Regions from separate parts of the Homo sapiens genome. Here all the other regions are linked to region 3. Evidence: fine-mapped expression QTL. A gene starts in region 3. Each other region holds a variant in brackets. All regions are shown on one strand. Distances are from middle to middle.

Region 1 (8,170 bases), 28 kb after region 3:
GTTTAAAAAACATCACTCAGTAAATTAGGAATAGAGGGAACTTCCCTAACCTAATACAGGATATCTATGAAAACCCCACAACCGATGGCGGAAGACTGAACAGTTTCTCACTAAGAACAGAAAGGAGGCTGGGATGTCCGCCCTCATCACCTCCGTCCAACATTGACCTGGAGGTTCCTGCTCGTGCAATTAGGCCCCCAAAAGAAATAAAAGCCATACAGACGAGAAAGGAAAAAGAAAACAATCTTATCTACAGATAACGTGACCATCTAACCCGATGGAATCAACAACAAAAGAAAAACCTGCAAGAACTACTCAGTGAGATTAACAAGGTTGTGGAATAACAAGACTGATATACAAAGTCCATTGTGTTTCTATAAAATGGTAATCAACTATCAGATATTGACATTAAAAATACCACTTCCTAACTGTATAAAAATAGACAATACTTAGAGGTCAATCTGACAAAAGATGTGAAAGACCTCCAAATTGAAAGAGTAAAAAATCCTTGGAAGAAGTGGAAGAAGACCTGAATAAATAGGGACATCCAAGGTTCGTGGATTAGTAAGTTCAATACTGTTAAGATGTCAACTCTCCCTGCATTTATAGAAATTCACAGGTCCATTCTAAAACACATATGGAAAAGCAGAGGAGGAGAAGAGCTAAAACAATCCGGAAAAAGAACACAATTGAAGAGCTAACATTCTAAGAATTCATATAAGACCAGTGTAAGCAAAACTTGAGTGATACTGGTGTAAAAATATTCAAGTAGATCCAAAAGAAAACGGTCCAGAAATCAGCTTACACACACAGACTGATGACTTTTTTTCAGGCAGGGTCTCACTCTGTTGCCCAGGCTGGAGTGCAGTGGTGCAATCTCTGCTCGCTGCAGCCTCAAATTCCCAGGCTCTAGGGATCCTCCCACCTCAGCCGCCCAAGTAGCTGGGACCGCAGGCACCCACCACCATGCACAGTTCAGACTTTTGACAAAGGTGCAAAGGCGACTCGGTGCACAACTGTAGCTTCTTCAAGAAACCATGCTGCAGCAATTTCATATTCTGGAACAACTGGATCTCCATATGCAAAAAGAAAAAGAAGAATAATTTGCATTCGTACCTCACACTATACACAAACATTAACTCAAAAAGGATCGTGGGTCTAAATGTAAAGCTGGAGCCATAAAAACACAGGAGAAAATCTTTATGGCTCTGGATAAGGCAAAGATTTCTCAGACATGATACCAAAAGCACAATTCCTAAAAGAACAAATTGACAAACTGAAATTCATCAAAAATGTTTAAAATTTGCTCTTCAGATGGTTAACGGTGAGAGGACAAGGCCACCAACCAGGAGAAAAATCTTTGCAAATCTATTTCATCAAGGATTGATTCAGAATATATACAAAGAACTCTCACGGTGGCTCACGCCTGTAATCCCAGCACTTTGGGAGGCTAAGGCAGGCGGATCACTTGAGGTCAGGAATTCGAGACCAGCCTGAACAACATGGTGAAACCCCACCTCTACTAAAAATACAAAAATTAGCCCGGCGTGGTGGCAAATGCCTGTAGTTCCAGCTACCTGGGAGGCTGAGGCAGGAGAATCGCTTGAACCCAGGAGACGGAGGTTGCAGTGGGCCAAGATGGCGCCACTGCACTCCAGCCTGGGCAACAAGAGCAAAACTCCATCTCAAAAAAAAAAAGAAAGAAAGAACTCTCAAACTCAACAATAGGAAAACAAATAACCCAATTTTACAGCAACGGGCAAAAGATCTGAACAGATGCTTCCCCCAGCAAGATGTATCAGTGGTGAAGTAGCACGTGCAAAGCTGCACGGCACCCCTGGTGCCGGGAGACACGCAAGCCAAAATCACAGACCGCACCCTCCACGTCTAGGAAGGGCCAAAGTCAGCGAGATGAACCATTCCAACTGCAACAAGAAATGAGAGCTAGGCCGTTTCTGAACAAGTTTCACACACACCTCCCACGGCATCTAGTCGTTTTATTTCTAGGCCTCTCCCCAAGAGTAAAGGAAATGTATGTCCTTCTGAAAACCTGTGTGTGAATGTAAATGGCCACATTACTTTCCATCATTCAAAACTGGAAACCACCCTGATGTCCACCAAGAGACGAACAGATGAGCGGGTTGGGGTGTACCCATGCTGTGGCAATAAAAATGAGTGTTTACAACAGACACAGCAGCAAGCATGGATCTCAGAATAGTTATGCTACGTGACAGAAGTCAGACAAGGAGTGCGTGCGTGCTGCAGGATGCCATTTATGTAACACTGTAAAAAAGCACAAACCCTTGGGTGCAGGGCTCATGCCTGTAATCCCAGCACTCTGGGAGGTGGAGGCAGGGGGGGTCGCTTGAGCCCAAGAGTTTGAAGCCAGCCTGGGCAACATAGCAAGACCTCGTCTCTACAAAAAAAATCAAAAACTTAGCCAGGTGTGGTGGTGGGCACCTGCGGTCCCAGCTACTTGGGAGGCTGAAGCAGGAGGATCCGTTGAGCCCAGGAGGTTGAGGCTGCAAGGAGCTCTCATTGTGCCACTGCACTCCCAGCCTGGGAAACAGAGTGAGGCTCTGACACACACACACACACACACACACACACACTCCCACACTCCCAGCCTGGGAAACAGAGTGAGGCTCTGACACACACACACACACATTCCAGCCTGGGAAACAGAGAACTTGTCACACACACACATACACACAAACACACACACACTCCCAGCCCGGGAAACAGAGTGAGGCCCTATCACACACACACACACACACACTCCCACACTCCAGCCATCCACCCACCCACCTACCCATCCACTCATTCATCCCTTCCTCCATCCATCCTTCCCGCTCTCTGTCCATCCATTCATCTATCCCTTCACCCATCCATCCACCCACCCATCTACCCATCCACTCATCCATCTCTCCATTCATCCATCCACCTATCCATTCACTCACTCACCTATCTATCTATCCGTCCTTTCATCCATCCTTTCATCTACCCATCCACACATCCATCCCTCCATTCATCCATCCACCTATCCATCCATCCACCTGTCCATCCACTCTCATCCATCCCTTCATCCATCCATCCATCTACCCATCCATGCATCCATCCCTTCATTCATCAATCCCTCCATTATCTATCTATCCATCCATCCAACCACCTACCCATCCCTTCATTTATCGCTCCTTCCATCCATCCATCCACCCACCCACCTACCCATTCACTCACTCATCCCTCCCTCCATCCCCCCTCTCTCCCTCTGTCCATTCATCCAGCCATCCCTTCATCCATCCATCCACTCATCTACCTATCCACTCATGCATCCCTCCTTTCATCCATCCACCTATCCATTCACTAACCCATCCATCCATCCA[TCCAG/G]CCAGCCAGCCAGCCAGCCAGCCATCCTCCCACCCACCCATCCATTCACCCACCTATTCACCCACTCATCCATCCATTAGTCCATCCATCCACCCACCTGCTTACCCATTCACTCATCCATACATCCCTCTATCCATTCATCCATCCCCTATTCATCCACTCACCCATCCCTCCACTCACCCACCCAACCATTCATCCACTCACCCACCTACCCATCCATTCACCTGCTTATCCGTCCACTCATCCATCCATCTATCAATCCATCCATCCACCCACCCACCCACTTACTCATTCACTCATCCATATGTCCGTCTATCCATTCATCCATCCCCTATTCATCCACTCACCCATCCCTCCACTCACCCACCCAACCATTCATCCACTCACCCACCTACCCATCCATTCACCTGCTTATCCGTCCACTCATCCATCCATCAATCCATCCATCCACCCACCCACCCACTTACTCATTCACTCATCCACATATCCCTCTATCCATTCATCCATCCCCTATTCATCCACTCACCCATCCCTCCACTCGCTCATCCAGCCATTCATCCACTCACCCACCTACCCATCCATTCACCCACCTATCTGTCCACTCATCCATCCATTCATCTGATCATCTATCCATTCGTCCACCCACCTACCCATCCATCCATCCACCCACTTGCCCACCCAGCCATTCATCCACTCGCCCACCTACCCATCCATTCACCCACCTATCCATCCACTCATCCATCCATTAATCTATTCATCTATCCATTCGTCCACCCACCTACCCATCCATCCATCCACCCACCCATCCACCCATTTGTCTGTTTTCCAAACCTTCACTGAGCACCTCCTGTGTGGTGTTGGGGGAGGCCCCGAGGTGGATCTTGCCCTCAGTGGGTGCGAAGTCAAGGCACAGAAGTTTATATTGGGCTAGTCCTGGTTGGGGTAGGGATATCACAGACATTCTGGAAAAGGAAGCCCGGACCCCACCCATTGTGTGTGCTCTGACTTAGGCCACCAGAGAGCTTATGTCCTGGCGTCTTATACTGCAAAGGCCATGAGACAGGTCAGACTGCCTGAACCCAGAGGCCACAGCATGCTGTGCAGTGTGGGAATGGGCTGGCCACTGGCCCAACATTTCCATCCTGGCCAGCCCTGCCCCCTTAGTGAGTACAAGACAGCCAGCACATGAGAATACACAGGGAGCTTTATTATACAAAATGGCGGGGTGGGGGGCGGCAAGCAGCGGGGGACGCAGCATCAAGCATCCTGCATGGCCGTTATCAGCCCTTGACCTGCAGTTTCTCCTTGGATCTGGGGGGGTGACCCACCCTCTCTGCACAGGCTGTGCCTCAACCTCCTAACTTCCTAGAAGGCACTTGGCCTCTCCAGGGGTAAGTCCCTTTGGCCAATGATCAGGAGTTTCTTTCCTCCCCCAAGTAACAAGAAGCGGAGCTGGGTGGGGAGGGCGGGGGCGGTGGTCAGAGAGTGGAAGGGCAGAGAGGCTAAAGGGTCCAGGAGCAAAAGGAGGTGGCAGCGGATGGCATCAAAGAGGCGAGGGTAGGTCATGCTGGCAACAGGAAGCAACTTCTTAGCCAGGGCCGGGGGGCGGGTGTCTGGCTGGAATCTCCCCTGGGTACATGGAGGGTGCCAGCCGGCTGGACCTGCAGACCCAGGAAGCTGGAACATAGGCATGGGGTGCAGGGGGCATTAGGCTAGGGTCCAGGGAGGGGCCACAGACCTGCCTCCTGCAAGCCCACAGAGCCTGCTCCCCGAGCCTCTCTCTGCTGGCCTCCCTGCCCTGCCCACACCCCCACTCCACCACAGGAGAAGACGTCCTGCCTCAGAGGCCTGCTTCCCAGTGCGAGCACTTGTGCCCTGGGTCAGGACCTCTGGCTGGAGACCTGACTCCTGGTGGAGGGAAGGCGGCCTGCCTGCCAAGCAGCCTGCCCACCCTGGGAGCTAGAACTGGGGTTCTCGTGGTTCCTGCAGTCCCGTCATCCAGAGGAGGCCGGTAGCTGAGAGCAGTCCTAAGCAGGCTCCTTCCGCCCCCACCCCTCCAGCAGCTCTGTTCTTGCCTTGGCAGAGCCAGCCCCCACCAGCGGCAGCCCCCAGGACTCCCTCCTTCCCCAAACCAGAGAGCCTCTGGCTCGGACAGATGCCATTTGTCAATGTCCTTGCAAACACGTGGTGCCCAGAAACCAGGGTGGGCGGCTTGGCCGGGCCACCCCAGACAGGAGGTCTGCGGGAATATCCCATTTAGCATAGCTCAGCGAAAACTGCTCCCACCTTCCGGCCAATCTACCTCTGATGATGCAGCCTCGGCTTTCCCAAGCCTCTTGGCCGCCACCCCTCACCGCTGGCTCGCAGCGGACGCGCCTGTGGTTGAGCCGGCGACAACAGGGCGCCCCTCACGTGTCTGGGGGCAGCCGCTCTTCCAGCCCTGGGCTTGGCCAGCAGCTGGCCAGGGGCATGCCTGTCACTTGGGGCTCACCCGCGTCTCCGTCTCCCACCCCAGCCCACACGGTGTTGCGGCCTGACCCAGGCTGTGTACTTGGGGCCTGCTTTGTGCTGGGGTGGCATGGAGGACAGAGCCCTGGAGGCAGGTTCTAGCCCCATCCCTGGAGGGACTCGGCCTCTGTGGCCTCATTTCTACACTAGGGTGATGGTGGGGCCACCCCAAAGTCCCCAAGGCACAGTCGAGCTCAGCATGTCCCTGGCAGGTTCTGGGTGCTCAGGAAGCAGAATACTCAGGCCTCCACACCCCTGGCCCCAGGTCCTCCTTGGACCACAGGAGACACAGGCCTCCCACCTCAGGAGGGAGGAGGGCTGGCCTGACCACTGTCCCTCCCACCCTAGGACACAGTCATGCTCATATCGGCTGCGTCGATGGCACCCGAGGTGTGCGGCCCAAGCCTCCAGGGAACCCCTGGACCCCCACCGCCCCTGCTGCCCAAGCCAGGGAAGGACAACTTGCGTTTGCAGAAGCTCCTGAGGAAGGCAGCCCGGAAGAAGATGATGGGAGGCACACACCTCGCTCCACCCAGGGCCTTCCGCACCTCCCTGTCCCCCGTGAGTGAGGCCAGCCATGACCAGGAGGTCACAGCCCCGCACGCTGCTGAGGGCCCGCACCCCGCCGAAGCCCCACGCCTTCCTGAAGCCCCACGCCCCGCCGAGGCTCCCCGCATGGTGGCTGCCCTACCCCGCTCCCCGCACACCCCCATCATCCACCACGTGGCATCACCCCTGCAGAAGTCCACGTTCTCCATCGGCCTCACCCAGCGCAGGATTCTAGCTGCTCAATTCAGGGCCATGGGGCCCCAGGTTGTAGCCTCGGCCCCAGAACCTACCCGGCCCCCCAGTGGCTTCGTCCCTGTCTCTGGGGGTGGGGGCACCCACGTCACCCAGGTGCACATCCAGCTGGCACCATCCCCACACAATGGGACCCCTGAGCCTCCCAGGACAGCCCCAGAAGTGGGATCCAACAGCCAGGATGGAGATGCCACCCCAAGTCCCCCCAGGGCCCAGCCCCTGGTCCCAGTGGCTCACATCCGCCCACTGCCCACCACAGTCCAGGCTGCCAGTCCCTTGCCTGAGGAGCCCCCTGTACCACGGCCGCCACCCGGCTTCCAGGCCTCAGTGCCCAGAGAGGCTAGTGCCAGGGTTGTGGTGCCCATAGCCCCGACCTGCCGCTCGCTGGAGTCCTCACCGCACAGCCTGGTCCCCATGGGCCCTGGCAGAGAGCACCTGGAGGAGCCCCCGATGGCTGGCCCCGCCGCTGAGGCCGAGCGAGTGTCCAGCCCTGCCTGGGCCTCATCCCCTACCCCACCATCAGGCCCTCACCCATGCCCTGTCCCCAAAGTTGCACCCAAGCCCCGGCTCAGTGGCTGGACGTGGCTCAAGAAGCAGCTGCTGGAGGAGGCCCCAGAGCCTCCGTGCCCAGAGCCGCGGCAGAGCCTGGAGCCAGAGGTGCCCACCCCCACAGAGCAGGAGGTGCCTGCCCCCACAGAGCAGGAGGTGCCCGCCCTCACCGCACCCCGGGCCCCCGCCTCCCGGACCTCCAGGATGTGGGATGCCGTGCTGTACCGCATGTCAGTGGCGGAGGCCCAAGGGCGCCTGGCAGGGCCCAGCGGTGGGGAGCACACCCCAGCCAGCCTCACCCGCCTGCCCTTCCTGTACCGGCCTCGCTTCAACGCCCGGAAGCTGCAGGAGGCCACCCGGCCCCCTCCCACAGTCCGCTCCATCCTGGAGCTGAGCCCCCAGCCCAAGAACTTCAACCGCACAGCGACTGGCTGGAGGCTCCAGTGAAGTGGCCAGAATGGCCCCCAGAGCCCAGGACCATGGGATGGACAGAAGAAGGGGCTGAGGCTCTAGCTGGGGGCCCATAGTTGCTGCATGAAGATGCACCAGGGCCCAAGGGGCATGGGGTGCAGGGCAGCCTGGGAAGGGCACATGGGGTGCTGAGGGAAGTCTGCATGGTTAGGAGGGTGGTCAGGTGGACGGGGCAGAGAGGACGAGCTGGAGCCCCTGGGCTGCAGTGGTGTGAGGGGAACAGAGAAGGGGTCTGCGTCGGGATGTAGGATGGGGGCCTTGGGATGAAAACTTTAGGTAAGATGGCAGAGGACTGCATCTACTGACCTAGCCCAGGCTCCTCAGGGGCCTGGGCCTCTCACTGATCCTCCCTTTTGCTGTCACCTTTTGCTGTCAAAGGTTTGGGGCCAGATCTCTGCTTGCTGAGGCATGGGTGCGGTCAGGCTGGCTTGGCCATCGGCGTCAGGAGCAGTCA
Region 2 (8,170 bases), 53 kb after region 3:
CCCCCTCCCAAAAGTGCCCACGCCAGCCAGACAGACCCCAACTCTACCAGCGTGCGCCAGGGTGACTACAGCCCAGGCCTGCCTGCCACACACACCCCGTCCCAAAAGTGCCCACGCCAGCCGGACAGACCCCAACTCTACCAGCACGGGCTGGGGTGACTACAGCCCAGGCCTGCCCGCCACACACACCCCCCTCCCAAAGGTGCCCACGCCAGCCGGACAGACCCCCAAGTCTACCCAGACACCCAACAGGAGGGGTGCCCGTGCAGCGGCAGACAGCGCTGACCAAAGGGCATCTATGACCCTGGAAACCTCATGGTGTGGCCTCCGCAGAGCCGCAAGCCTTGGCCCCCTGCTGAGACTGGAAAATGGAGCCTGGTTTCCCCCAACCCCTCTACCCCTGGCTTCCCATTGGTCCTCAGAGGCTGGGTCAGGGACCGTCCTCAGAGCAGGGTCCAGAACCGGCTTGATGTCCTGCTGACCAGCCCATCACCTCCCTTGCGCTGGGTGCCCTACCTCTTTTGATGTGCTCTGTGGTCAGCCCTGTGCCGGCAGCACCCTTGTCCCGCTCTGCAGCTGTTTCACATCTCTGCCCCCATCTGCGGCGACCAGCCTGGGTCGGAGGTTAGGGCCCCGCCCTGCTCGTGGGTGGCCCTGCCTGCTGCATCCCGGCGGCGTGGCTGCGGCTCTGCCTGCCCCGTGCCTGCTCTTTCTTCCCCCCTCCTCCTGTTCTGCGTGCTGTGCATATGGCTTTCTGTCTTCCTCCGTGTCACTAACCACAACGCTGCCGAGCCCGTGCCACGAGCGAGGCGACCTGCGGGACCTTTCTGGGGCCCTCGCCTGCACTCCGCGATCAGCGTCCTCCGCCGCAGCTCTCACCCTCGCATGCGTCTACATGCAGCCCCACTCGGTGCCTGCTTCCCGCAGGAGGGGACCAAGGAGCCCTGATACCTACAGGTCCACCGACAGCCCGGCTGCGCCTCCCGCCTTTGCTCGACGGCCCTCGGGAGCGCTGCGGCGCCTGGGCCAGCTGGGACTGCCCTGGCAGAGCTCTTGCCGTGCTCACGAGGCAGGCTTTTGGCACGTTCTGGGACACGCAACCAGTCCCTGGCAACGGCTCGAGGCTCTGCCATCCTCTTTCCTTCCCAGCTAGCCATGCCCAGATGTACCTCACATCCCTGAAGTCTCTGCCCACAGATGCTGCCCGAAGCGCTCCCATCCTCCACGCAACCAGAGGCTTCATACATTATTCAGACGTGGTGCCCACCTGGGCGGGAGCCACAGCCGGCACCCAGAGAGAAGGACCAAGCCAGCCTGGCATTCAACCACCTGCTCCACTCCCACAGCACCGGGATCTTCCTACCGTAGCACCCAGCAGCCAGGCCCTCTTCCTGACACCCCCACACCATGTCTGCCTGTGGAGCTCTGGGGTGCCCGGCCTGGCCACCGGCCCCTCCCCGAAGCTTTCATGGCTGACCAGCCCCTCCCAGACTCATCATCCCTGGGGGTGCAGGGAAGACATGGCAGAGCAGAAAAGAGTCTGCCCCTGGGCCGGCACTTCTTTCCCAGGAGACTCCCCGGTGTATGTCCCCGGGTGCTGCGGGCACCCCCTGCCAAGCCCCAGGATGGGAGTAAGCTTTGGTGCCTCCCTGAGCCTCAGCTTTCCTGTTTGCAAAATGGGGTATGAAGGACCAGCTTCAGTGGGCCGTGGGAGACTCACATGGCCTTGGGATGTCCTCATGGCTGAGGTCAAGTGGACCGGCCTTGGTCCTCTGCACCAGAGGTCCAGACATCCCCGTTTAAAGAGGCACAGTGAGCACCAGTGCAGCCAGCGCCTCCGTCCTCACAATGGTCGCCAGGGGCGCAGTCCTATCATCCCCATTACAGATGCACAAACGGAGGCTCGGAGGTGCACCTCTCACGTCTCACGCAGGGGTCCCAGGGAGCTGATGACGTGGCTGGGGCTCCAACCCCTCAACCCCCAAGAACCGGGTGTGGGGAAGACCAGGCAGGGACAGAGGCCAGAAGAGGTGCTGCTCCTGAATGTGAGTGGAGGGTCCTGACCCAGGGGGTCCCAGTCCGGGTGCAGAAATTCATTTCTCAGTCTCGGGGAAAACCAGCCCCCCCCACGCCCCCTCCTCTGTGGGGCGCCCCATTTTCCTCGCCCGCCCTCTCCTTGGCAAGCTCGCCAGCCCTCGCCTGGCCTCACTGCGTTCCTCCAGCATCCATTTCTCGCTTCTTTGATCTTCCTCCTACCGCCCGTCTTTGGAGCACCAAGAAGCTGTGTGAGACAGCGGCTCTGAGCCTTCTGCCCCGGCACCTGCTAGGTGCGGCCCACGTGGGAGAGACCCCTCCTCCCACACCTGGGGTCGGCGGCAAGGGGCAGTGCCCGGGACCCTCACACAGCTTCCATTCGCACCTCAGCCCCTCCCTCTGCCCTTCCCATCCTGCCACCACCCTGCACCCGCTTCTGCTCCCCCTCCCTCCTCCTTCAAGGCAGCCCCTGCTCTCCCTCCCTCTCAGCATTTTTCCCTCCCTTTCTCTCATTTCTTTCTCGTGCCTTCGCTTTCTTTCTTTCTTTTCTCTGTCACTTCTCCCCAGGTAGGGTTTGTTCTCGTCAAGAGACCCTCACAGCCCCAGGCACAGGGTTGCCCCCCTCCCAGCATCCCTGGCCAGGCCCGGCCCTCAATCTCACCTCCGCAAGCACCACCTCAGCTCGCACCAATACCTCCCCAACCCGTCATGGGTAGCAGCCGACCCTCAAGCCTCCCGGGTCTCAGCCCACTTGGAGCCTGGGGCAGGGGCCAAGCCCCTCACCCTTCTCCCTAATGGTCCCCGCCCCATCCAGGGGTCACCCAAGGGCTTCTCTCCCACAAGCTCCCACTTGCAGTGGCTCCTGTCTGCCCTCCAGAGACCTCTGTGGTTAACCCCAGTCCACCGACCTCTGCCAAGCCGCTCTGAGCCGGATGCTCAGTCCCCGGGGCCATGCTCCCTCTGGCCTCAGGGTGCCTCCCCTTTACGGTTCCAGCAGGGGCATCTGGGGGTCGAGTGCCCAGGGCACCCTGGCTGCCGCTTGCTGGCCGCTCTGCCCAGCTCTGGTTCGCCGGCTGGGACTGAAGCCTGAACCGCCGTCCTCTGGGCTCTGGCCCTGACACCCTGCCCAGGGGGCTGGGCCACTCGGTCCCTGCACCCCTGCTGCTGGCTCGCCTGGGCTTCTGGGCAGGACGGGCTCTGTCCGAAGACCGACTTCCAGCCCTGCCAGGGCGGGGGCTACCCCACCCTCAGGATCTCAGGCCTGGATGGGCCCAAGGCAGCCACACCCTTTTGGACACTGTGGTTGGAGGCCTGGCTTCCCCCAGCCCCCTCAGGGCCAGCCCAGCAGGCTGCCAGCCCATTCCTGCCCCACTGGCCACATCAGGAGCCCCAGAGGTCCCTGGACCAGGCTGCTCAGGGTGGGTCCCTGCCTGAGGGGCCTTAGAGCCCTGCGGAGAGCCAAGCACGGTGTGGCTGCCACATCTGTATATGTGTGGGCAGATGTGTGCCCGAGATGGAGGGAATGGAGGGGCTCACACCGCCCAAAGAGCCATGGCTAAGGGTGGGCACGGGGCTCCGGGGACCTCAATGCTTGATAAGAACGTCTGCCAGGCTGATCCCCAGCCCCCCTCTTCACTCCGGGCCAGGCTACAAGGCACTCTCAGCCGGCCTGGTGCCCTCTCACAAAGCCAGGACCCCACAGGTAGCAGGGCCAGGCCGCTGGCTGAGTCCGGGTGACGTCTGGAGTTGAGTGGGCTGAAGTCCTCTTGAGGTCCCCTGACCATCCCTAACACTTGCCTTGCCCGAGCTGGCCCTGGGAGAGCCCCGAGTTGCCCAGGGGCAGGCAGGAGGCACAGGGCAGACTCCCAGGTGCCTGGAAGGGCAGACTTGGCAGGGAGGCATTGGGGGTAGGTCAGCCCAGGGCCTGACCCTGCCAGCCAGAAGCCGCATTCTGGCAGGGGCTGGGTACAGCCAGACCTGGAGAAAATGGTGTTATGGGACTACATGCAGAGCCCCTGGGCTTGCACTGGGTGTAGACAAGGAGAATCGCTGGGGCAGGGGTGGGGGGCGACGGGGCAGGGGGGACACGTTTTCCCACTGGCCCAGAGCACCATTTTTAATGGATGTAAACTGCATTGAATTTATTCCCTGGCAGCTGCGGGCACCTAGCATGGCCCTTCAGGGTTCATCACTGAGGACACAGCACTTTGCCTGCAATGCCTCTCCCAGCCCTGCACCTGACATGGCAGGACACCCAAGGGGTCCCCGGGAAAGGGGTGGGGTGATGCGGGTGGAGGAGGGACCCAGGGACCCGGGCTCATCATGCCCGGCTGAGTGGCCTTGAAGTCTCTTCACCCACAGCTTCTCTGAGCCTGGCTCACTCCTTTATCCAACAGGGAGTGGGTAGGGGGCAGTCTGCCTGGCCTGCAGGGCTGGGACTGGGGAAGTCCGAGCTGTTGGAGGCTGCAGAGAAGAGATCATGGCAGTGGTGGTGAGCGCAGTACTGTCCC[G/A]GGTGGTCGTGTGTGTGTGCATGTGTGTGTGTGGGTGTGGTGGGTGGGTGGGGTGCAGCGGCCTCTGGGTCTGTGTCCTGGAGGGGGTGTGTATTAGTGCACACGTGTCAGCCTTGCTTCATGTAGCTCACCTTGGTGGCTCCCCTTAGCTGGACAAGGGACTCTTGCTGCCCTCTGCCCAGCCCCCATCAGGACAAGTTCCAAGGGAGTTCAAAGGGACGGGTCCTTATGCCACCAACCCACTGGCTGACCACCGCAAGTGAGGTCCCCTCCTCACTGTCTCCTCCCCAGGTCCACAGGGACTGGCCCCGAGCCTGAGCCCACGCGGCTTCAGTGCCTCCTCCCCAGGTCCACAGGGACTGGCCCTGAGCCTGGGCCCACGCGGCTTCAGTGTCTCCTCCCCAGGTCCACAGGGACTGGCCCCGAGCCTGGGCCCACACGGTTTCAGTGCCTCCTGAGTGCGGCTTGCTCACCTGGGGCTGCAGTTGGTGCTGGGCCCGCTGGACGGATGCTCATGGCCGAGCCCCTGGTGACAAGGGGGTGAGCCACCGCACAGCCAGGCAGGGGCTCTGCCCCTCCTCCGGGGGCTGCACTTCCTTCTCTTGGGCCCATTTGTTAAGTAGCACTGGTGAGCCTGGGGGATTGACCCCAGGCACTCCTCAAATCCCAGGCCACAGAGCTCCTGGTGGACAGCAGCGTCCCCTGGGAAAACACATTCCCGTTGGGCAGGGAGGGAGGTCTGACCAGCAGAGCCTGGAAGCCCAGGAGGAGGAGGCTTATGGGGGGCCAGGGGTAGGGGGAGGCTGGGATGAGGTGTGCCCAGCCAGGGGCCCACTGCAGATCCTGGTGCTGGTCCTGAACTCAGGTGACAGCCGGAGACCCTGCCAGGTGGGGACCAGATCGGAGCCATCTCTCTGCATCTGCACGGACCCAACAAGTGGGAGCTGGGGAGGAGGGGTGAGCCGGGCTGCCCTCAACTCCTCAGACCCCACTTAGCTCACCCCCATGGGCATCCCTGGCTCTCTGGCCTCTCAGAGTCTCAGCACTGAGTGCCTGGCCTGGGTGGGCAGTGGCAAGCCGACCGATGCCAGCCCTGCCTTCCAGTAGCTCGAGGTCCGGCCAGCATGCTCCATGCCATCAAAGGAAGTCAGAGCAGGACAGCCCTCCAGGTTAGGAAGAAGCAAGGCAGCCTTCAAGCAGGAGGTGGTGTTTCAGTTTGGCTTAAAAGCCTGGAAGGGTTGAGGAGGAGAAAGGGCACTACAGGCGGCTCAGAGTGGCTGACGGTGCAGAGGGATATCTCTGAGACTGCCCAGGCTGGGTCTTGAGGAGCCTTGGGCCCTCCAAACTCTGCTCTCCCACCTGACCCCATGAAGGGCCACACCACTACTTTACAGAGGAAGAAACAGGCTGGGAGAGGGCACCACACTGGCCCAACACCTGCAGGTGGACAAGGCCCGGGCACCTTCCCTGGCCCTGAGGAGCCTCCCACTCAGGGTTGGTGGCTGCAGCCAGGGCCGGTAAGCTCAGCCCAAAGTTCAGTTTCATGATCTGTGAAGTGAGGGTGACTGAAGGGTGCCCAGGATCCGAAGGACCCCACGGGAGGCCCCAGAAGCCACCCAGAGGATGGGCCCTTCATTTTGGGGGCTCAGAGTCAAGCAGAATCCCTGGGGCTCGGGGAGAGGTGTGAGCAGGTGACAGTGCAGCCGGCGGTGCAGGTGGGACGGCGTGAGCGGGTGACAGTGCAGTCGGTGGTGCAGGTGGGATGGTGTGAATGGGTGACAGTGCAGCCGGCGGTGCAGGTGGGACGGTGTGAGCGGGTGACAGTGCAGCCGGCGGTGCGGGTGGGACGGTGTGAGCAGGCGACAGCGCAGCCGGCAGTGCAGGTGGGATGGGGAAGGAGAATGCATGGGCAGCTGCCAGGAGCCAGGAGGAAGAGAGGCCTCAAGCAGCCTCCGCACTCACACATGTACACGCAACCAGCCTGGCACCCTCTCGCTGCCCACGCTTGGGGCAGCAGAGCCTACCGAAGCTGGGGGGAGGCCCAGTGGCCCGGTGCATGTGGCAGCCCAGCATGGGCACCCTGCCCTGCCCTCCATGCCCAGCCAGGGCAGGAGGGACCTACCTCAAGAGGTATCCAGGCCCTGTCTGCTAGAGTTCCTCCTCAGAAGCCCGGGACTGCCCAGGCTGCAGCCTCTGCTCAGGCGGCGACCTGGCCTGACCCCAGCCCCGGGGATAGAGCAGCATCTCAAAGGCTCCTGTCCTGCTGGCCCTCCTCTCTGCTGCCCTCCTCCCGCACCCCTGCCCCCCTGTGCCCAGCTCTCCTTGGCTTTCCTGCCTCTCCTGGCCCCTCTCACTCCTGCACTTCCTTGGCGCTCTGCCCTGGCCCTCGGTCTCTCGCTGGCTGTCACCCCTCCCCTGTCCCTTCTCTCTGTCTGGTGTTCTCCTTGTCCCTGTGACCCTCTGCCTGCCTGTCTTGGCCCCTCTGGCCCCTGGCACAGGAGTCTGTGGGCCGGCTCCCTTGGGCAGCCTGGTCCCTCCCTCTGGCACCTGGCACAGGGGTCTGTGGGCAGCCTGGTCCCTCCCTTCGGCTCCTGGCACGAGGGTCTGCAGGCCGGCTCCCTGCAGGCAGCCTGGTCCCTGTGTCCCCATCCCTGTGGGTCTCCCTGACTGTGGGTCTCCCTTTCCCCTCTCCTACTTCAGGACTCTCAGCAGCTGCTTCTCTTTTGTTTCCCCCAGCCCCCTTCTCCTCCCGCCTCCATCTCTTCCACCTCCACCTCCTCCTCCTTCCGAGAAGAGTAAAAATGTCAGAGCGAAAACTCTCCCAGCCCAGCAGCGTGGGGCTCAGCCAGACCTCTGTGGCGCGCTGATGGGCAGCGTGGCTGCCTCCTTCCCTCCCTCCCTCCCTTCCTCTTTCCCTTCCTCCCTCCGCCTCTGCCCTCAGGCCACCTTGGTAGCCGCTGCCCGCTTCTCGGTCTCCCCTAGCCCTCTGTGGTGCCCCTGCCCCAGGCACAGGGGCCTATTCTGCCCATCGCCGCCTCCCACCTCGGAGTGCCTCATGCCCTCTGCCAGGCCCTGCCCGGGCCCTCCTCTGTTCTTCTCCTTCGTCGGCCGTTCTTGTCCAGCCCCTCGTCAACCTGCCACCTCCCTCACCATCATCGCAGGCCTGGACCCTTCGCTGGTTCCTCTTTGTCCCGTCCCCTCCTTCCCCGTCTCGCACTCAGCCCCTCTCTCCTCTCTCCTTTCCCTCTGGTGTCTCTGTCCCTATCTCTGTCTCCCTCCCTCCTTCCCTCCTCCCTCCCTTCCCCTCCCCTCCCTTCCTCTCCCCTCCTCCCCTCTCCCCCGCTCCTGGTTCTCCACTTTCCCTTTGTTCATTCCCGGCCTCTGCTCTTGTTGTCACCTCCAGAGAAGGCTTGGCACCCCAAGAACCCTCTCTGTTCCCCAAATGGGGAGGCTGCTGCCTTTCCTGGTGGGCCCAACCCCCCAGCCAGACTGCAGAGTTGACCCAAGAGGCAGAGACGCCACCAACGCAGCATCTTCGGTTTGGTATTGGCACAGCATGGTCCCAAGAGGTGGCCAGTGGGCACAAAGTGGGCCTGGTGCCCTCGCCAGCCAGGCCCCCCTTGCCC
Region 3 (8,170 bases):
ACAGGACAGCCCTGCCTGCTAAGGTTGCGTGAACGCGCTCCCCAGTTGAGTGGGTGCCAGGGATTCCAGGGCAGCGCCGTCGGCCTGAGAACCGCCACCCCACACGGTTCCCAGGTGCGCCCACACCCGCCCACGCCTGCCCGGGCACGATGGAGACGCCCACAGACCACACCTGGCCAGCACAGGGAGGGGGCTCCAGGCTCCACCCAGGGTTACAGCACAGGGTTGGGGGGTGGCATGGAGGGATGGAGACACAGAGAGACAGAGATGGAGATGGAGGTGGAGAAATGGGGACAGAGAGGCCAAGAAAGACAGAGACTGAGAGAGAGAGGCAGGGAGAGACAGAGACCAAGAGGCTGAAAGATACAGAGACAGAGAGAAGCTGAGAGATACACAGGCACACAGAGAGACAAAGTTGCCAAGAGAGACACGGAAAGGAACTGGAGAGAGATGGAGAGACTCTGAGATGCCGGGAGGGTAGAGATAGAGAGAGAGGCAGAGAGACAGCAGCACTGGGCACGCAGGGCACTCGGTGTTTTGAGGCCTTCATGACCAGCCCCAGTGAACTCCACACACCATGGCACACGGAGGATGAAGGATTAATGAAGGATCGTGAATGCATATTAATCGATTAAAGAGACAGGGGTTAGTGATGATTTAATGACTCATCCATCATTAATTAAGTGGTGGCCTCATTTATCATTAATTAATGATGAATGGTGATTGTTAGTGACTAATGATGAGGAAGATGGAAGGTTGATTGACAAGCTCAAGGCGGCCTGGAGCAGCCTGGGGAGGGGGTTCTGTGAGCGCCACACGGGAGAGGGGGGTTAAGTTCCAAGGAGGGGCTGGGGGGGCTTCCGGTGGTTGCCAGAATTACCTTCTTCTTCGTACTGCTCTGCATTGGGACAGAACAAAGAGGGGAACCACGTTAGAAGGGGCAGCCCGTGAAGGGAGGAGGAGGATGAGAGGCCAGTGTGTCCCGGCCCTGGACAGGCCAGCGACTGCCCCTGCCCAAGAGCGTGGAATCAGGGGTCCTCGGGCCCTGAGGAGGCGCTGGGGAAGGCAGAGGCTCTGGTGATGATGGTGGCTTTTGGGGGGCTCGGGGGTCCTGGATGCCCACGTCCCACAGTGGGCATGAGAGAAGCAGAGAGACAGGACCCAGAGCCTGACCTGCAGGCCCCTCAGGACCATGTGGCCACACTTCGGGGAAAAGACGAGGCCCCCCACTTGGACAGCTGTTTTCCGGGGGTCACTCAGAAGCCACCCATGGGATGCAGCTGATGTAGGGCTGTCAAGGGGACACAGGGTATGCACAGTCCAGCCCCCTGCCCACATGTGAGCCTTCCTTCTAGAGCAGGAAGTAGAAAGAAAATGGCTGTTACACTTACCCTCCACCTGTTCACTGTGGGGCAGGGAGAGAGAGAGAAAGAAAGAGAGAGAGGTAGTGAGGCTGGGCTTTGCTTGGACTTGTGCAAGATAGCGCATGCTCCAGCCCCACAGAAGCCAAGGGGCCAGGGTCCCGAGCCAGGCAGGGGGCAGCCACCAGCTGGGTACTCACACTTCCTCGTCAGACATGGTGAAGGTGGGTGGTTTCTGCAGAGAGAGATTCAGAGAGAGAGAGAGAGAGAGGATGGAAAGAGAGTTACGAGCTGCCTGGGTGTAGGATGGGGGATGGGGTCTTGGAGCAGCGCTGTGGGGGACCGCGGGCAGGGTTTGGGGGCCAGCTCTGGCCTTGGGTGAGTCCACCTCCTTGGGCCTCCCCTTTCTCCAGGGCTCCTGGCCCCTCCCAGCTCTTGGCGCCCCAGACTCTGTCCCCTCTTCCTGCCCTGGCTCCAGACTGGAGCTTGGAATCTTGGAGCTGGAAGGGATGTTGGAAGGTCGTGGCGTCCACCCCCACCCAGGGCAGACATCCTCTCCGTGGCGTCCCCTGAGGAGGGTCATCCAGAATGCAGGCCGTGTGCCGTCCAGCCCGCTCTAGACACTGGAAAGGTCCCGCTGATGGAGCTGAAACCTGTCTCTGGGTGTTCTCTGCCCAGTGGGTGTAGGTGGGGTCTCCCTGGGAGCCCCTGGATGACCGAGACTGGCTCCCCAAGATGAGTAATCTGCTCACCCTACCATTCCCCATGAGAACCCCTCTTCCCTATTTGAGCCCAAAGCTCCCTTCTGTGCCTGTTTTCCTATGGGGTGCCCAGAGTGTGTCCCACCACACCCCTCTGAGGACCCCTCCTCCAAGATCACAGAGCAGGGAAGCTGTTCCTTCTTGTTACCCCTGTACCCTGAAAACATTGAGGCTGAGCCCCAGAGCACGTTGGGTTGGGTCTGGGCCGCTTCCCGTGCACCCCCCCGGGCCGGGCTCTGTACAAGGCATACTTGGACTGCAGGAGCCCACAGAACAGCCCCCCCATTTCCCTCCCTGTGGCCGCTTTCCCTGGTCCCGGGGATGCTCTGGATCTGTCCCTGTCTAGGGGAAGCTCCATGCCCAGGACTGGCTGCCCTGTCCATGTGCGGTGGTGGCGCCAGGCCAGCATGCTGGGGACCGTCTCTCTGTGAGCTGGCCACCGTGCACACTGGGCGGCCAGGCCTGGGGAGGCTCTGAGCAGCTGCACCGGCATGTTGGCCAGGGTTTTAGAAAACAAAGTTCATTACAACACAGTACAGATTACTCGAAGACAATAGCTACGGTCCCCCCTGGGAGTGTTGTATAAGGAAAACACACGTTCATCAGCTAAAAATGCATCTACGTTGCACTGCTGAGGTGGGAACCGTTTTCCAAACCCTCTGTCAAGAATGTTAATTTTCCCAGAGCAACTTAAGCTCCATGCAAAATTACCCAGCAGATAGCTGTCTTCCAGGCAACGGGGGTAGCTTTTTCCTATCCCAGAATCTCTTCCTGAGACTCTGCTGCCCCTCAGGTTAAGCCTCTTGTAACTGCCACGGCTGGGCCAGGCTCTCCTCAGTCCTCAGCCCCACGAGCCAGTGTTGTCCAGGCCCCCGGTGTGACCCAGTCCCAGGCTGCCCACCAGCCCCTCGTGCTGTCCTCCCAGCTGGTTCAGGCCCCAAACGCCACAGACTCCTCTAGGGCCATCCTCTGTAAGGAGGAGGAGGGTCAGTGAAGGGAGGGAGCGGAGCCTGGCCCCGCCCTGCTGTGCCCAGCCCGACGCTGGCGGGGCAGACACCTGTCGGCTGCCACAAGATGGGGGCAGCGTGGCCCTCGCCTGGGGTGGGTTATTTATAAGGAGCCAGTGGCAGCTGAGGTGTCCAGAAATAGGCAAGACGTTTCTGCCCAGAAACCCAAGACGTGGGTGAGGCGGGTGTGACAGCCCAGCCCTCCTTGGCCCACAGCTGCCCCCTCACCCTCGGGCACCCAGGCCCTCCCCAGCTCCTCATATTTCCCTCCTGTCCCCCCAGGCCAGAGTCACATGGGTGCCCCAACACCCTCAGGCAGGGTGACCTCCAGGCCCCCCGACGTGCGCTGGAAAGGCCCACTCTCCAAGTGGGGAAACTGAGGCACCTGGTTTTCTGCTGAGCGCCTGGAAGCAACACAAGGCTGTTCTGTTCCCCCCAGTATGGCCTGTGTCATTGCCTCTGTTGCGGGGAGGGGCTGGTGGCAGGGGTGTGCTGGGGGCAGGGGTGTGCTGGGGGCAGGGGATGGCATTTCAACAGCTGAGACGCAAAGCAGGTGTCCAGTTAGTGCCTGCCTTGGAGGGGCTGCGTGAAAATAACCTATGCGGTCAGTTTCTTCGGGCACGTATGCATCACCTTTCCCTCCTTGGGAGGTGACGGGGCCAGGGCAGGGTGGGGAGGCAAAAGCCGCTGCCCCTTGCTTGCTGTGGCCCTGACCATGCCCCCAGACCTGTTCTCCACCCAGCCAACCTTTGCTTTGCCCCATGTCCCTCCGTGGACTTCAGGAGGGGCAGCCAAGGCCTGATCAGACGGCACAAGTCAGGGGGACCGTGTCCAGGGCAGGGAGGGTGGGTGGGGGCTCTTACGAGCGCCAGCTTCTCCAGCCTCCAGCCAGGGGGACGCGATGAAGCCCAGCCCCTCACTCTTGCCCCGTCCTGCCCCAGTCCAGCCCCTGTCCACTTCTGTCCTGCACCTCCAGACGCTGGCCCCCAAGGCTGCGTGGGCTTTAGACGCCCCCACCCCAACACACTCGGGCTGGCCATACAGGAGCCCCTGCCCTCCTGTCCTCGTTTTCATCTCTACAAAATGGCGGTGTTGGAGGCCCAGGTGCGAGAGCTGCATGGCAAGGCCAGGACGGGCCTGGGCAAATGTCTGCATGGCGACCACAAGCTGGCAACCTAAGCCCTGGCAGCACCCCTGCACAGCCTCTTCCCTGCCGCTCACAGCCCGCACCTCTCTGCCTCCTGCCCTCAGGCCACTCCCTAGCACTGAGCTTCCCTGAGCCCCGACTTGCCCCCTCCTGGCCTCCCACACTCTGCCTTCTTCTGCATCCTCCCGGTGCTGAGACCATCACACCACCATGTCCGCATCCCAGACTCTCCGGACGCTGGAGCAGCCACCTGGGGGCTCCGAGCCATGATGCTTCGAGATGCTCGGCACCACACGGACCTGGGACCTCAGCGCCCCAGGACCCCAGAGTGTCCCTGGAACGAGGGGCTGTCCACCCGCACGCAGGAGGCCCCGTCGGCCCCAGTCCTGGGTGGCCGCTCCTGCCTATACCCACCTGCGGGTCGAGTGTGAGAAGGGCTGGAGCTCCCTGTGGACAGCACCGGCTGCAGGCACTGGCGCCCGGCTCACACCCTCGTGTTATAGTGACATTTGATCTTCCTAGGAGCCCATTGGCCAGTGACTGGGTGGCCGGGGTGTGTGCGGAGTCTTGCTGGGGGGGGCTATGCCCGTGCAGGCCCCTTACCAAGTATAGGAATGGCCAGAGGAGGAGGCTGAAGGAGGCCAGGATGCAGAGGACGTGCTTGGAGAAGGAGGCAAGGTCCTCCCTCCGCCTCCAGGAGGTGTCAGCTGCTATTTTTACTCCCAGCAGCGGGTACATTCTGGATGGGCTGAGGAGGGAGGAGGAAGGTGTTGGGTGGCCCCGGGGCACCAAGCCGAGGCTCTCTTTGGGCCAAACTAGTGTGGGGGTCCCCAGAGCCAGGCTGCCGGGTTTCCCACCCCCCCGCCCCTTCTCTCTGAGATGTTCTGTGGGAGTAAACATTTGTCCAGGAAAAGGGTCCGCACAGCCGGGGTCCCCTCCCGCCGCCCGGCCCAATGCCCCAGGCCCTTCGCTGTCTCCCCCGGGGAGGAAGCAGCCTGAGGCCTCGGAGACCCCCCATGGAACTGAGGCCAGGCCCCCACCCTATCTGAGACCCTCTTAGAGGCCAGCTCTGCTTTCCTGGCTAGACACCGTTGGGGCCTACACAATAAGCGGGCGAGGGACATGGCCAGGCTGGCTGCAGTCCGAGTCTGCCATACCTCCCCCCGGGGCTGCTGCCATTGCAGGGGGCTACACATGGAGTTTGCTGGGTAAGGGTCTGGGTCCTCCCTCTAGGCCCTTTCTAACCCTGGGGCCCCACCCTGGGCACTCGCAGTGGCCGTTACCATCTGTGCCAGCATCTCCCACAGGCTCATTGTGGCGTGTGGAGACTGGTTTTCTTTCCTCAGGACTCCAGGTGGCACCGTCCGACTAGCAGACATCCTTCCTGGCCTCTGATGGCCTGTATGCTGGCCAGTGAGGCCACCAGATTGGATAACCCTGCCTCTTGGATCAGGGAAACTGAGGCACCAGGTGGGGGAGAGCAGTCTGGCACCCTGACCCACCCCCTCACTCCCCTCAGACCCCACAGGCTGAGCGTGGGCGGTGGTGTCTGCGGAACTCTTCGGTTCAGGCACAGATTGGTTCCTTCTTGGCCAGCGCCCAGGACAGGGGTGAGTCCCGAGAGGCACAGATGAGGTCCCTGTCCTCCCCAGGCTTAGAGTCAGGGACAACAGGATAACCCGGCAGGGGCTCACAGTGCCCTGGGGCCGGGTCGGGGGCCTTCCGGAAGGCTGTGGTTGGCACCTCATTCCACCCCTCCATGGAAGAGCGAGGCCGCAGAGCCCAGGGACAGGCAAGGTGTGCCTGGGGTCACACGACAAGGCGGGCTGGCCCCAGGCTGCCATTTCAAAGGACAGGGCCGGTCCCCTGCCTGCCTCCCGCTGAGTGCCCGGCACTGGGAAGGCTCTTGGAGCTGGGGTTGCTGGGAACGTCGCCGTCCTCCTGCTCTGGGTCTGTGGCTTCGTCTGCATTCCACGCCTTCCCCTCCCTGTCCATGTCCTCGATGGGCAAGGCTTTGGGGGCCACAAACAGCCCTGGCCCCTGGATATCTGTGACCAGCTTCCTGCCCACTGGGGACATCTGCAGAACTGCTCCCTCAGAGGCACGTGAGCGGGTCCCTGGGGGTCAGCGGGCCCACCCCATCCTCTCCCATGGTGGGGCCAACCTCCTTTTCCAGGCTCGCTCTGCCGGCTTCTCTAACGGAGCCCTGAGCCCACCATTCTGGTTACACGTGGTTCAGTCTGCAGGCCTAGGAAGCCTGTGCCCACCCAAGCCCTCACCCAGGCCAGGGGTCCTGAGGGGCGCACCTGAAGGTGGGTGTGCCATAACCCTGCACTGGCCCCGTGTGGCCAGCAGGGGAAGGTGCTGCCCGCCCAGCTCCTGGAGCTTTGGCAGGCGCTCTCCGCCCAGCCAGCTGAGGTCAGAGGGATAGGGCAGGTTTTATTTTGGGTATCGGCGACCTCCCCCTCGGGCGCTGGGCCTGAGGCGTAGCAGGGACTGCACAGAGCAGGCACCAGCGGCCTCGAGGGCCTGCACCAGGTAACCCATGCCCTGCTGCCATCTGGCCGGACCGGGATGGTCCAAGGAGAGGAGGCAGGGCAGGGGCCTCCTGGGGGACTGTAGACCTGGGTGGGGGCAGGGCACAAGGGAGGCCCAGCCTGGGTTGGGGACGCATTTCCACCCAGGAGGAGTCTGAGGACGGACCACGGGGCCTTGGCTCTAGGGCAGTTGTTGGGGGATGGGGGGGTTCTGAAATTGGCAAATGCTGAGCCAAGCCCAGGGAGTGGGGAGCAGGCTGTGGGAGGGAGGATGGCCTCCTGAGTGTCTTGGCTGCAGCTCCCTGCCTGGGTGGCCCCCAGATGGTGGCCGGGGCCCCTCAATCTAGGTCCCAGCACCCAGTGCGCATGGTTGGGGGTGGTGGAGACCAAGAGGGTCCTGAGCCTCTCCTCATGCCCTGAGCTGACCTGAGCCCCCAGGCTGGATCCAGCCTGAGGCCGCTCGGCCCAGCTGTGGGCTCAATCACTGCCAGGCCCAGGACAGGAGCAGCTGACACAGCACTTGGGAACTGAGCTGCTCCAGCCCTAGGTAGCTGCCTCCCCACATGCCTAGTGCTTCTGATTTTGCAGTTTCATTGACTCGTTCTGCAGATATGATGGGTGTCTTCTCTGTGGCTGGCCTAGGGGCTTGTAGCAAGGGTCACAGGGTGTCTGGTGGCTGCTCTGGCAGGCAGGACAGAGGCTAGGGGCTTCATCTGCCATCCCTGGCCAGGGGCCTCTTAGGCTGCAGGCCTTTTGAGCCTCCTGACCTCCGCATTGGGCATGGCCTGACCTCCAGGTTTCCAGGAGCAGGGGCATGGGGTTGCTGTGGCCGTGGACGGGAGGCTGCATCAGAAACACAGCAGGGCTGTGGCTGGGTAGAGCTCAGAGGGACAGGCCCTGGGTCCTTGTTCTCGAGGCTGAGCCGAGGGGTGCAGATGATCTGACAAGGGGCCAGGGCTGGTCGGGGGCGGGGTGGGCAGTGGCTGCCTCCTCAGCACTGCTGACCCCAACTACCCCCTGCCCCTGGTGCTGTCCACTCTGCACCCCAGTGCTGAGTGCCCAACTGTGGCCTTTGGGCCTGCCTCTCGGCTGCCCTTGGTCACCGTCCCAAGCGGATCAGGTGGGAAACAAGGGGAGTGCTGTCACTGGGTGGTTCCCCAGCTGGGGAGGGTGGCCTGGATCCTCTCTCAGTGGCTGGGGCATCTGAGAAAGGATGGGGGCACGTCACCTCCCTTGTGTGGGTGGTGGCTCTGTCGAGGTTTTGCTTTTCTGAACTGTGTGTATTCATGAGGCAAGCAGGGTTTGACATGAAGCCTTCAGAAAATAGTGGCTGTGAGGACCCAAGGGAATGGCAAAG

Evidence for each region. PIP is the estimated chance that this variant, and not a neighbour inherited with it, causes the effect.
Region 1: its variant is fine-mapped to the expression of TNNT3 in whole blood (INTERVAL, PIP above 0.99).
Region 2: its variant is fine-mapped to the expression of TNNT3 in CD4 T cells (BLUEPRINT, PIP 0.92).

The regions. Positions count from the first base shown.
Region 1 is chr11:1,888,667-1,896,836 of GRCh38, reverse strand. It overlaps LSP1 (lymphocyte specific protein 1), which reads right to left. Exons shown (of 11, transcript NM_002339.3): 11 at 4,574-5,064. It overlaps PRR33 (proline rich 33), which reads left to right and starts at 4,942. Exons shown (of 1, transcript NM_001395380.1): 1 at 4,942-8,170. The coding sequence starts at 6,253. The coding sequence ends at 7,692. It overlaps LINC01150 (long intergenic non-protein coding RNA 1150), which reads right to left and starts at 78. Exons shown (of 4, transcript NR_120534.1): 1 at 1-78. RefSeq lists an enhancer at 1-17. The variant TCCAG/G (reference allele first, on the strand shown) is at 3,384.
Region 2 is chr11:1,863,759-1,871,928 of GRCh38, reverse strand. The region is part of intron 1 of LSP1 (lymphocyte specific protein 1); the gene reads right to left. Among named protein-coding and RNA genes, the nearest start is that of MIR4298, 8.3 kb to the right of the region's middle. RefSeq lists enhancers at 252-789, 790-1,328. The variant G/A (reference allele first, on the strand shown) is at 4,545.
Region 3 is chr11:1,916,283-1,924,452 of GRCh38, reverse strand. It overlaps TNNT3 (troponin T3, fast skeletal type), which reads right to left and starts at 4,750. Exons shown (of 16, transcript NM_006757.4): 1 at 4,691-4,750; 2 at 1,562-1,596; 3 at 1,392-1,405; 4 at 881-898. The coding sequence starts at 1,578. It also overlaps a transcript of PRR33 not described here. RefSeq lists an enhancer at 7,383-7,432 and a silencer at 7,983-8,032.